Homo sapiens: one gene and its partners. The protein of the gene in region 3 purifies or fractionates together with the protein of the main gene of each other region. This does not show direct contact. Each region holds a gene or a part of one and is shown on either strand. Other genes may lie near its edges. The genes, in order: CPSF3, GTPBP2 and UBE3D.

Region 1 (3,751 bases), on a different chromosome or scaffold from region 3:
CCCTCTGTCACCGAGGCTGGAGTGCAGTGGTGCAATCTCGGCTCACTGCAACCTCTGCCTCCCAGGCTCAAGCAATTCTCATGCCCCAGCCTCCAGAAAAGCTGGAACTACAGGTGTGTGCCACCACACCTGGCTCATTTTTCTATTTTTGGTAGAGACGAGGTTTCACCATGATGGCCAGGCTGGTCTTGAACTCCTGGCCTCAAGTGATCTGCCCACCTCAGCCTCCCTAAGTGCTAGGATTACAGGCGTGAGCCACCACGTCCAGCCCAGAGTAAATATAGTTTTGAACTCTACTTTTTTGGTTGACTTAATATATTATGTGCAAAGTATGTAATTACTCATCTGTAACACAATTTTTTCCTACAATGCTATATTTACTCACATATTTCTTTGAAAATACTAAAATGATGAATACCTTTCCTGACAAAATTTTCTGTACATCTCATTTATTTCCCAGAAGCGGAACTGCTGGCCAAAGGGTACACATATTTTAAGACTTCTGATGGCAACCGGAAGGGGTCGCCAGTTCACATTCCCAACAGCAGTGCATGAGAGTTGCTGTTTTCCTGGGCTATTCCTAGATCCAAATCCCTATTATTATTATTATTATTATTTTTTGAGATGGAGTCTCGCTCTGTCGCCCAGGCTGGAGTGCAGTGGCGCAATCTCGGCTCACTACAACCTCCACCTCCCAGGTTCAAGCAATTCTCTGCCTCAGCCTCCTGAGTAGCTGGGATTACAGGCATCTGTCACTGTGCCCGGCTAATTTTTGTATTTTTAGTAGAGATGGGGTTTCACCATCTTGGTCAGGCTGGTCTTGAACTCCTGATCTCGTGATCTCCCCACCTCAGCCTCCCAAAGTGCTGGGATTACAGGCGTGAGCCACCGCGCCCGGCCCCAAATCTCTATTTTTAAATGAAGAAAACTGAAGTCCAGAACGGTGGAATGACTCATCCAAGACCACATTATTATCTTGATAAAATGACAAGATTTTGATCATCGCCTAAATACAAAGGAAATGGCATACCTAGAATCAAGAGCAGCTCCTGAGCCCTTCCAAGAGCAAAGACAGGAATGAGACCCCTGCCTCCTCTGTTTACAATATCGTGGACAGTGTTACAGAATCTTGCTTCTCGCTCTTCACGTTTCTCATGGATATGGGTCCCATAAGTAGATTCCTAAATAATACATTAGAAGTGTGAGACTAAGACCAATGATCCTCCAAGAATTCAAAAGTTAAACATCAATGAAATACTGAGGGGCTAAGCAATTCACTTCTCCATTAGCATGTCATTTACTCGAACATGTGTTGTCATAATAGTAATTGGGAAGAGCAAGCAAGAATGCTAGAATTCAGGCCCAGCGTGGTGGCTCACACCTGTAATCCCAGCACTTTGGGAAGCCAAGGTGGGTGGATCACCTGAGGTCAGCAGTTTGAGACCAGCCTGGCCAACATGGTGAAACCCTGTCTCTACTAAAAATACAAAAATAAGCTGGGCGTGGTGGTGGGCGCCTGTAATCCCAGCTACTCCGGAGGCTGAGGCAGGAGAGCTGTTTGAACCCAGGAGGAGGAGGTTGCAGTGAGCCGAGATCGCACCATTGCACTCCAGCCTGGGCGACAGAGCAAGACTCCATCTCAAAAAAATAAAATTTAACAACAACAACAAAAAGAGGCCGGGCATGGTGGCTCATGCCTGTAATCCCAGCATTTTGGAAGGCCGAGGCGGGTGGATCACCTGAGGTCAGGAGTCCAGTCTGACCAACAGGATGAAACCCCGTCTCTACTAAAAATACAAAAATTAGCTGGGCATGGTGGCGCATGCCTTATAATCCCAGCTAGTCAGGAGGCTGAGGCAGGAGAATCACTTGAACCTGGGAGGCAGTGGTTGCAGTGAGCCGAGATCATGCCATTGCAGTCGCTCACTCCAGAGTGAGACTCCATCTCAAAAAAAAAAAAAAAGAATGCTAGAATTCAAATCTAAGAACTTTTTATAAAATGAAATAGTCCAAAACTGTATCTTCTTCCCATGTCCTTTTTTAACCATTTTGCTTTCCATTAGGAAGAAAAAGGTTATTTCTCCCACCTCTGATAAGTCAAAGCTTTTAAAATAGAAACAGATGTTGTTTCTTATACTTCTGTTTAAGAATATCCTTAAAGTCTTACTAGGTATGGTCCACTGACCAGAAGATTGACATCCCTTGGGAGCTTATCAGAAGCGCAAAATCTCAGACCCCAGCCCAGATGTACTGAATCAGAATTTGTATCTTAGCAATATCATCAGATGATTATAAGCATATTAAAATTTGAAGCACTGCTCTAAAGTATGGTACTATGAAAATAGCTACTTTTTCTGAGGGTTCAAAAAATAAATCTTCCCTTAAATTAAGTTTATATGCTGGGCATACCATGAGCAGAGTCCAATCTAATCTGCTCACATGTTGCTTATGGACAGCAGTATGTACTGGCCCACATGCCTGGGCAGCTGGGGAACATGGTAGGTGGTGGAGGAGAAACAGACAACTCTTCCTCCTTGAACCACATACACCTGATGTTCTTATATACACCAAAAGCTTGCAAGATTTCTCTCCCAACCCCTGACTCTACAGTCAGCAACACACATCCCAAGCTGCCCCCAAAGAGCTTCTGTACACAGTTCATTTTTTTTGCTCCCCTGGGACTTGCAACCTAGTAGGCAGACATGACACACAAAGATAAACAAAACGATAAGTTAGCATGGACTAAGGGCCTGAGGATAGTCACCATGGCAAAGGCAGTGAGGTCACACCATTTTAAAATGACCCGTAAGATGTTCTTCTACATATTCTCATCTAGAAATATATATTTAGAAGACAGAGAGAGGGCATAGCCAGTAAAAATGATCCTGCCCAGAGACAGCCTGCTGATCCTGCCCAGAGGCAGCCTGGCATCTCTGATATTAGACTAGAGTTAATGCATTTAACAGCAAGAAAGTGAAACTGCACTACAAAAAGAAGCACCTGCCCCAATTTTTTTTTTTTTTGAGACTGAGTCTTGCTTTGTAGCCCAGGCTCGAGTGCAGCAGCGTGATCTTGGCTCACTGCAACCTCCACCTTCTGGGTTCAAGTGATTCTTGTGCCTCAGCCTCCCAGGTAACTGCACCACCACACCCAGCTAATTTTTGTATTTTTTTAGTAGAGATGGGTTTTCACTGTGTTGGCCAAGGTGGTCTCTAACTCCTGGCCTTAAGTGATCTGCCCACCTCAGCCTCCCAAAGCGCTAGGATTACAGGTGTGAGCCACCGTGCCCGGCCACCAGTTTTCTTATATTTTAAAAAAGGTAAGTTTATATCCAATAACATATTATGAAAGTGAGATCACAGTATTATTTTCCAAAAGAAAAAAAATCTGCTTACATTACATTGATTACAATATAGTATATTAATACTTACAATGATAAGAATATCAGGCTTAATATTAGGAATTTCAGCTGCCATTAAGTGCCTATCTTCTTGTCTTGAGAAATCACCAGTGTACAAAAGCTGTGAAAAAGATAAAACTAGAAAGTTAGGATTTGGGGAAGGCTTCATTTTGCTAGTGAATAGATTAAACTCATGAAATCCAAAAGTGCAGTTACAGTTTTTAAGTCTAAAACTGATGAAATTTACATGCAGTGCTTGTGTCCAATTCAAAATGTGTAGTTCAGTCAGTAAACGGTTCAGTGCTTCAATTATTTCCTCTAGTAAATGGGAATAATCTATTCCCAGTATCA
Region 2 (3,751 bases), about 39 Mb from region 3:
CATCCCAGTACCGCTTTGAGCACCTGGTGACACAAATGAAGTGGCGGCTCCAGGAGGGACGTGGTGAGGCCGTCTACCAGATTGGGGTAGAGGACAATGGGCTGCTGGTGGGGCTGGCTGAGGAGGAAATGCGAGCTTCGCTCAAGACCCTGCACCGGATGGCAGAGAAGTATGCTTCCCCTTCCCCACCAGTTCTCCTTTACCTGACTTGGGGGGACCCATGCATACCCAGTTACCTAGGGCCTGAGGGGCCAAGGTGGGACTTTCCTTCTCTTGACAAAGGGCTGAAGTGGGGAGGGTTAGTGTTTTGGTCCCCTCCTCACTGGACCTAGGCTGTTTTGCTCCTTGAATTAAGATATGTATATTTGTTTTAAAGGGAACTGTGAATGAGGAATAGATTGGAGGGTGGTAGGAAGTGCACTAAGGTATTGGGAGCTCTGTGGGAGGTGCAGGAAGTCTGTAGGTCCAGAGCGAGCCTGGAATAGGAGAAGGACAGGTGAGATATGGCAGCTGTGGCCTTGCTGTGACAGGGTTGGGGCAGACATAACCGTTCTTCGAGAGCGAGAAGTGGATTATGATAGCGACATGCCCCGGAAGATCACCGAGGTGCTAGTACGAAAGGTCCCTGACAACCAACAGGTGAGCACACACCCATCCCTGTCTCTCATGTCCACACTGTGGAAGGGCCCTGTGGTGGCAGGCTGTCTCCTGGCCTGGGATCCTGGGGGCTTCCAGTTCATCACTTGCTCCCTAGGGAGCGTCACTGCCCTTGACCCAGTCTTCAGTTAGAGGGGTGAGAGATTGGAGTTCTTATCTCTGGCAATTCATCCACAGTTCCTAGACCTCCGTGTGGCCGTCCTGGGGAATGTGGACTCTGGGAAGTCAACTCTGCTTGGAGTCCTGACCCAGGGAGAGCTGGACAATGGGCGGGGCCGGGCTCGGCTCAACCTTTTCCGCCACCTGCATGAGATTCAGTCTGGCCGAACCTCCAGCATCAGCTTCGAGATCCTGGGCTTTAACAGCAAGGGAGAGGTGCATGGGATCAATGGGACCCAATGGGGCCAGACTCTGAGGATGGGATGGTAGTAGTGAAGGACATAGGATGGGGGTAGAGTGTGGAGACTTTTTGAAATAGTATAGATGAATGCCCTGAGGGGACTGTGAACAAGCTCTGCCCCTCTTAGGAAATCAATGGGGAATCAACTAAATTAAATAAAAAATGGGGTCAAGATTAAGAGGCAGGGTCACCCAGGGAATGGTTTAGGTCCTGGCAACTCTGAAGGGGTTGGAAGGGCTGGCAGGAGGCACTGAGGGCCCTGGGCCCTGGGCCAGGTGGTGAATTACAGCGACTCACGGACAGCAGAAGAGATCTGTGAGAGCAGCTCCAAGATGATCACCTTCATCGACCTGGCAGGCCACCATAAGTACCTACACACCACCATCTTTGGCCTCACATCATACTGCCCCGACTGCGCCCTGCTCCTCGTCAGTGCCAACACTGGGATTGGTACGAGGCATTAGGGCAGGGACAGGGCTGAAGGGGGGTGCTGACTCTCCTACCCTGGGCCTCAAATCTTGGAGACAGACCAATGCTCCTCTTCTTCCCTCTCCTCCCTCCTGCATTCTCACTCTTCTCTCCTGCTGCTTGCTGTCCTTATGAGGCAGCTGGCACCACAAGGGAACATCTGGGGCTGGCCCTGGCCCTGAAAGTGCCCTTCTTCATCGTGGTCAGCAAGATCGACCTATGTGCCAAGACCACAGTGGAGAGGACAGTACGCCAGCTGGAGCGGGTCCTCAAGCAGCCTGGCTGCCACAAGGTCCCCATGCTGGTCACCTCTGAGGATGATGCCGTCACTGCTGCCCAGCAGTTTGCTCAGTCACCCAAGTAAGCCCACCTTACTCTAAAGCCCTGATCCACTAGGAAGGCTGCCACAGAGCCCAGGGCCCAGAAGCATGATATCCTACTTCTCCAGGGCCAGACCAGTTCTGGCTTAGTTCTGCGGGTGTTTCAGCTTGGGATTGTGGAGGGGCATCTTGCTAAAGGGCTTGACCCTCCTCCCGAGCCAACCTGGAGCACTGCTGATGCCTGGGACCATGGCGATGAAGTGCTATACCAGGCATTTGCTGTTTCCCTTGGGCTCGGATGGGCTTTTTGTGTGACATTGCTCGACTGGCTCACAAGAAGGCCCAGAGTTCCTGAGCCATTTGCAGACAGGAGAGAGGGGCCCCCAGCCAGAACAAAGCTCACCTTTCCATGTATGGGGCTCTGGCCTCTGCCTCCTGTTTGGACTGTCTTCATCTGTCCATTCCATGCCTCCCTCTACAGTGTCACCCCCATCTTCACATTGTCCAGTGTGTCTGGAGAGAGTCTGGACCTCCTCAAAGTCTTTCTGAATATTCTGCCGCCACTCACCAACAGCAAAGAGCAGGAGGAACTCATGCAGCAGCTGACGGAGTTCCAGGTAGTTGACTGCCCAAACATCTAATAGGCTGGGAAACAGGGAGGGGCTGCTTCAGACCAAACCCAGAGTCTGTTTAGAGATTTTGGACCCACCAGCCCTACTTGGCAGGCCATTGATAGCGTTTTCTTTGGCTTCAGGTGGATGAAATCTACACAGTACCAGAGGTGGGGACTGTTGTTGGAGGAACACTTTCCAGGTAAATTGTCTTGCTTGCTACCCTCCCCACTCAGCCCTCACCTATATACTCAAAGACATCCTGGCCCAAAGGAGGAGACCCTGGAATTGAACGGAACCCATTTAAAGGACATGCTTATTTGCAGATTAGGCTTTCACTATCAGAAGAGCTGGAGAACGGTAGTCTGTTGGCTTTGGAGGGAAGAAACAGTATTGCTGCCTATTGGGGAATCTCCAGGCCCCTGAGAGAGAAGTGTGGGTCTTGAGCTCCAGGAAGAAAACTAGAGTGTATTCAACTGACTTCATCTCACACAGGGAAATGAGAGACGTCACTTAAGACTCTTCTTTCTTTCTTTCTTTCTTTTTTTTGAGACAGAGTCTCGCTCTGTTGCCCAGGCTGGATTGCAGTGGAGCGATCTTGGCTCACTGCAACCTCTGCCTCCTGGGTTCCAGCAATTCTCCTGCCTCAGCCTTGAGTAGCTGGAATTACAGGCGCCTACCACCATGCCCGGCTAATTTTTGTATTTTTAGTAGAGATGGGGTCGTCACCATATTGGCCAGGCTGGTCTTGAATTCCTGACCTCAAGTGATCCACCTGCCTCAGCCTCCCCAAGTGCTAGGATTACAGGTGTGAGCCAACGCGGCTGGCCTAAGACTCTGCAAAGCAGAGAATGAAACCCAAGGGGATAACTTGCTCCTTCAGTGATTAGGTGTTCGGTGTTGTTAAACCAGCAAGTGTCTCTCTGTCCACCATCACTGCTGGCCTTTTATGAAATTAGTCTTCTGATTCTGAACTCTGGCAGTGAGCCCTGTTACATCCAAGTCAGAATTTAGGGTTCTTCCCCACTTGAGGGACTCAACCCTAGAAGGGAAGGAATGCTCTGGGTGATCCTAATAGAGAAGTAGGTATGGGGACCTTGGCTGACACTGTGCCACCTGCCCTCTGGGCTGCAGTGGGATTTGCCGTGAGGGGGACCAGCTGGTGGTGGGCCCCACGGATGATGGCTGCTTCCTGGAGCTGAGAGTATGCAGCATCCAGCGCAACCGCTCTGCCTGTCGTGTGCTGCGAGCTGGTCAGGCTGCTACACTGGCGCTTGGGGACTTTGACCGTGCAC
Region 3 (3,751 bases):
CTACAAAAAAATAAAAAATAAAAAATCAGCTGGGTATAGTGGCACGCACCTGTAGTCCTAGCCACTCAGGAGGCTGAGATGGGGAGGATCACTTAAGCCCAGGAGGCTGCAGTGAGCCATGATCACGCCAATGCATGTCAGCCTGGGCGACAGATCAAGAACCTGTCTAAAAGAAAAAAAGATACAGAAGAAAAATCCAACTCTTAGCTCACAGGCTGTACCAAAACAGGCTGCAGGTAGGATTTGGCCAATGGGCCATAGTTCTCTGACCACTGCTCTAAAGATAACACAATGTCCATTTGCTACCTCAATGACTTTCAAACTAGACTGTGTAGAGTTGACACTTCCAAGTGCCGCAAGAGATACCACTGGGTTCCTAAGTCCCCATTGCCACCCCATCTCTGGTTTATCACATTTCTTCCCAGTCCCAAAAACTTTAGTCATTTTATAGGGCCAAGCAAGAGAAGCATCATTGCAAGGGTGGTGACACAGTGGCCCAGCACGGATTTGAGAAACTAAGCAGACTGTGGAGGGCATCCATAGGGCCAAGCAAGGGAGGCATCAGTGCAAGGGTGGTGACACAGTGGCCCAGCATGGATATGAGAAACCAAGCAGGCTGTGGAGGGCATCCACCAGGAGGACCACTCAGCAGGGGTGTCAAATCCCAAGACAGGTGAGGAGGAAATCTGAACAGGAGGTGAGGCCAGCTCAGGATGGGGTTTCAGAGCCTGTCTTAGCTCAGCTGCTATAACAAAATACTATAGATGGGTGGCTTAAACAACAGACATGGCAGAGTAAGGAAGTTCAGTGCCTCTTCCTCTTCATATAAGGACACTAATCTCATCAGGGGGGCCCCGCCCTCAAGAACTCATCTAAATCTAACTACCTCCCAAAGCCCCATCTCCTAACACCATCACTTTGGGGGTTAGGGCTTCAACATGTACATTTTGAGGGGACACAAACATTCAGTCCATAACAGGGTCCAAGCAGGTGAGGAGAGTGTCAACAATGAGCAGGGGGAGGTGGCAAAGGATGCCAGCAGACTATTAATTACATAGAGGGAGACTGACAAAATAAATAAATGCCACTAGGACAATGAGGGCCATGATTCTCACTGTGGGAGAATGGAGTTACAAAAAGAGAAAGCGAGGAAACTAGAATAGACCCTATGGTGGTGGGGCAGAATTAGAAATACCTGTGTGAAGTCATGGTTTTCAATGTTTACAAATAGATACAGTAATATTGATGGTTGTAAATGCATGTATGTACATAGGTATGTAGGCACAACCATACATAGACATCATATATAAGTCATACACACATACCCTAGTTCTGGGAGAAGCGACATCCAACAGTGATGAGTACACTTAGTGCCCAGATCTTGGTTTGTAAAGGCCATTTTCTGCTTTAAAAAACGAAATGAACAAACCAGAAACAAAGTTCCTCAGTAAAATGACTACATCCAGGGCTGTAACAGGGAAAGAATGAAATATGCCTGGAACATGTTGCTGGAACATGAAGAAATCAAAGAATGACAGGTACCTACCAAAAAAGACGCAGAAACCATCCAGAAAGGACTTCCTTGGCCACATCTGGTATAATATGAACAAAAAAGTAGCCCATTGAATAAAATAAAAAATAAAACCCACTGAGTAACCCACAGTAAGAATCATGTATCCTTACTGACACACAAATGAATAAAATGAAACTCTGATGAGGAACAGGGTATTTACATAATCTCAGAATACCTCTCCAATTACTGATTATGAAGAGAAAAAGAGTAACTTTAAGGTAGAGAAGCATGGCAGACACTATCTTACTTTAAGTGCTCAAAGTTAACATAACCAATTTGATGGAACAAAGCAAAATCATGTGCCACCTGACAGGAAGCCTCACTTCTGTTATATTCCTGCCAAAGATGCAAAATCTGAATCTTGTCTTGAAGAAACATAAGACAAATCCAAATGGAAGGATATTCTACAAAATGATTGTACTATCATCTTGCAAAGTGTCAGGACCATGAAAGTCAATGGAAAATGAGGAACTCTTCTAGATTGAAACAGACAGAGGAAGCATGACAGTGAAATGCAATGCCTTATTCTGAACTGGATTCTTCTGTTATTAGGGATATTATGTAGACAACTGGTAAAACATGAATGATGTAAGATGGTAGCAACACATTTCCCAATTGTGAGTGTTGGATGATGGTTCTTTAGGAGAATTCCTACTTTAAGACTAAGTTTGATTGACATAGTTCATACAATAATTTCATACTTGAGGCTTTCTTCACCATTGACTTGTATTCTGTCAGGTATCACAACTGCTTAAAACTATCCAATGACTTCATCTCTCACTCTAACTACAAGCTAAAGTCCTTTCGATGGTCCATAAGGCACAGTGGTATAGCAGGCCCTGCTGCTACAAGCTTTGGAGAACCTGTTGTTAAAATTCTAGGAGTTCTGCAAAGCAGGTCAACTCACCTCACCCAGTTGGTAGGCTGAAGGTCATACGTGGTGAAAGTATTCACACCAAAGAAATCAACAAATGCTTCAAATCAAGACCTTAGTTTGTCTTTTTGTTTATTTTCATGGAGAGTAGGTTATTAAACATGTACCAGCACACTGCCATAAGATCTTTTACTATGTGTTCCCCCAACTCACCCGCATCTCTCTGAACTAGGCACCCTTTCATACTCACTTTCTCTCAAAGGGAAATTGTCTCCCACCAGGTATGGCAGTTCTACACCTCACCAGTTACAGTTTAATACTCAAATGTTAGTTTCTCATTTGAAATAAAAGATTGTAACTTTTTTCTCCCCATTCCTTTTTTGTTTAATTTTTTTCTCCACTTCTATCAAATATATATTTATTTTGTATATTCTCTGCCGCCTCTTCTCTACTGCCACCATTAAACCCTATGCTCAACAAAGGCAGGTGTTTTTGTCTTTGCTGTTGTTACTGTTCATGGCTGTATTCTCAGCACTTAGAATTTGAATTTTTGGCACTAGAGTAAGAACACAATAAACATCTGTGGATTGAATAAATGAATGGCCAAAGTTTATCCCAAAATGCTAAGATATCTTAATATAAATAGATCTTTACATCTGTGAATGTAAACTTTGGAAGCCAGACTCTTTTTCACAACCCACTATGGCAGGAATTAATCCATTCCTGAGAGAGAACTCACCCAACCATCTCCATGGGAGGGCATTAATCTATTCAAGAAGAATCTGCCCTCAGGAACCACGCACCTCCCACTAGGCCCTATGTCTCAACACTGCCACATTGGGGATCAAAGTGAGAAAACATAGGGACAAAACACATCCAAACCATAGCAGTTAGGAACAAGAACACCAATATTTAAATTAACTATAAAATATACTAAACATTTTAATTAGAACACACAGATCATCAGAACAGATTTAAAATCACCCAACTATATATTTTTAAAACTAGCATACAGTTTTATGCTATTTTTAGGGAAATACAGTATTTTTACAGCTTTTTGCTTTATACAGAAAGACATAAGAAAGGTTAAAAAGGTAGAAAGGACACACTATGCAAACAGTATAGTCAACTGATTTCTCATGAAGACTGAGTTATTTTAATGGGAGAAATGATGGCCTTTTCAACTGATGGTGATAGAATAAATGAATATCCTTATACCAAAAAAAGAACTTTGATCCCTACTTCACTGCAAACACAAAAATGAATTCAACATGATCACAGATCAAAATGTGAAAGCTAAAACG

What was found.
Region 1: the proteins of UBE3D (region 3) and CPSF3 purify together in Homo sapiens (affinity purification with mass spectrometry; 5 studies listed by BioGRID and IntAct, with this or other methods). This does not show direct contact.
Region 2: the proteins of UBE3D (region 3) and GTPBP2 purify together in Homo sapiens (affinity purification with mass spectrometry; 2 studies listed by BioGRID and IntAct, with this or other methods). This does not show direct contact.

Annotation. Positions count from the first base shown.
Region 1 is NC_000002.12:9,433,641-9,437,391, reverse strand, and holds part of CPSF3 (cleavage and polyadenylation specificity factor subunit 3), read right to left. Parts: intron 3,522-3,751; coding exon 3,432-3,521; intron 1,182-3,431; coding exon 1,031-1,181; intron 1-1,030. UniProt on the Homo sapiens protein: Component of the cleavage and polyadenylation specificity factor (CPSF) complex that plays a key role in pre-mRNA 3'-end formation, recognizing the AAUAAA signal sequence and interacting with poly(A) polymerase and other factors to bring about cleavage and poly(A) addition.
Region 2 is NC_000006.12:43,622,644-43,626,394, reverse strand, and holds part of GTPBP2 (GTP-binding protein 2), read left to right. Parts: coding exon 1-169; intron 170-530; coding exon 531-639; intron 640-834; coding exon 835-1,032; intron 1,033-1,332; coding exon 1,333-1,507; intron 1,508-1,665; coding exon 1,666-1,885; intron 1,886-2,326; coding exon 2,327-2,462; intron 2,463-2,599; coding exon 2,600-2,658; intron 2,659-3,590; coding exon 3,591-3,751.
Region 3 is NC_000006.12:83,059,215-83,062,965, forward strand, and holds part of UBE3D (E3 ubiquitin-protein ligase E3D), read right to left. Parts: intron 1-3,751. UniProt on the Homo sapiens protein: E3 ubiquitin-protein ligase which accepts ubiquitin from specific E2 ubiquitin-conjugating enzymes, and transfers it to substrates, generally promoting their degradation by the proteasome.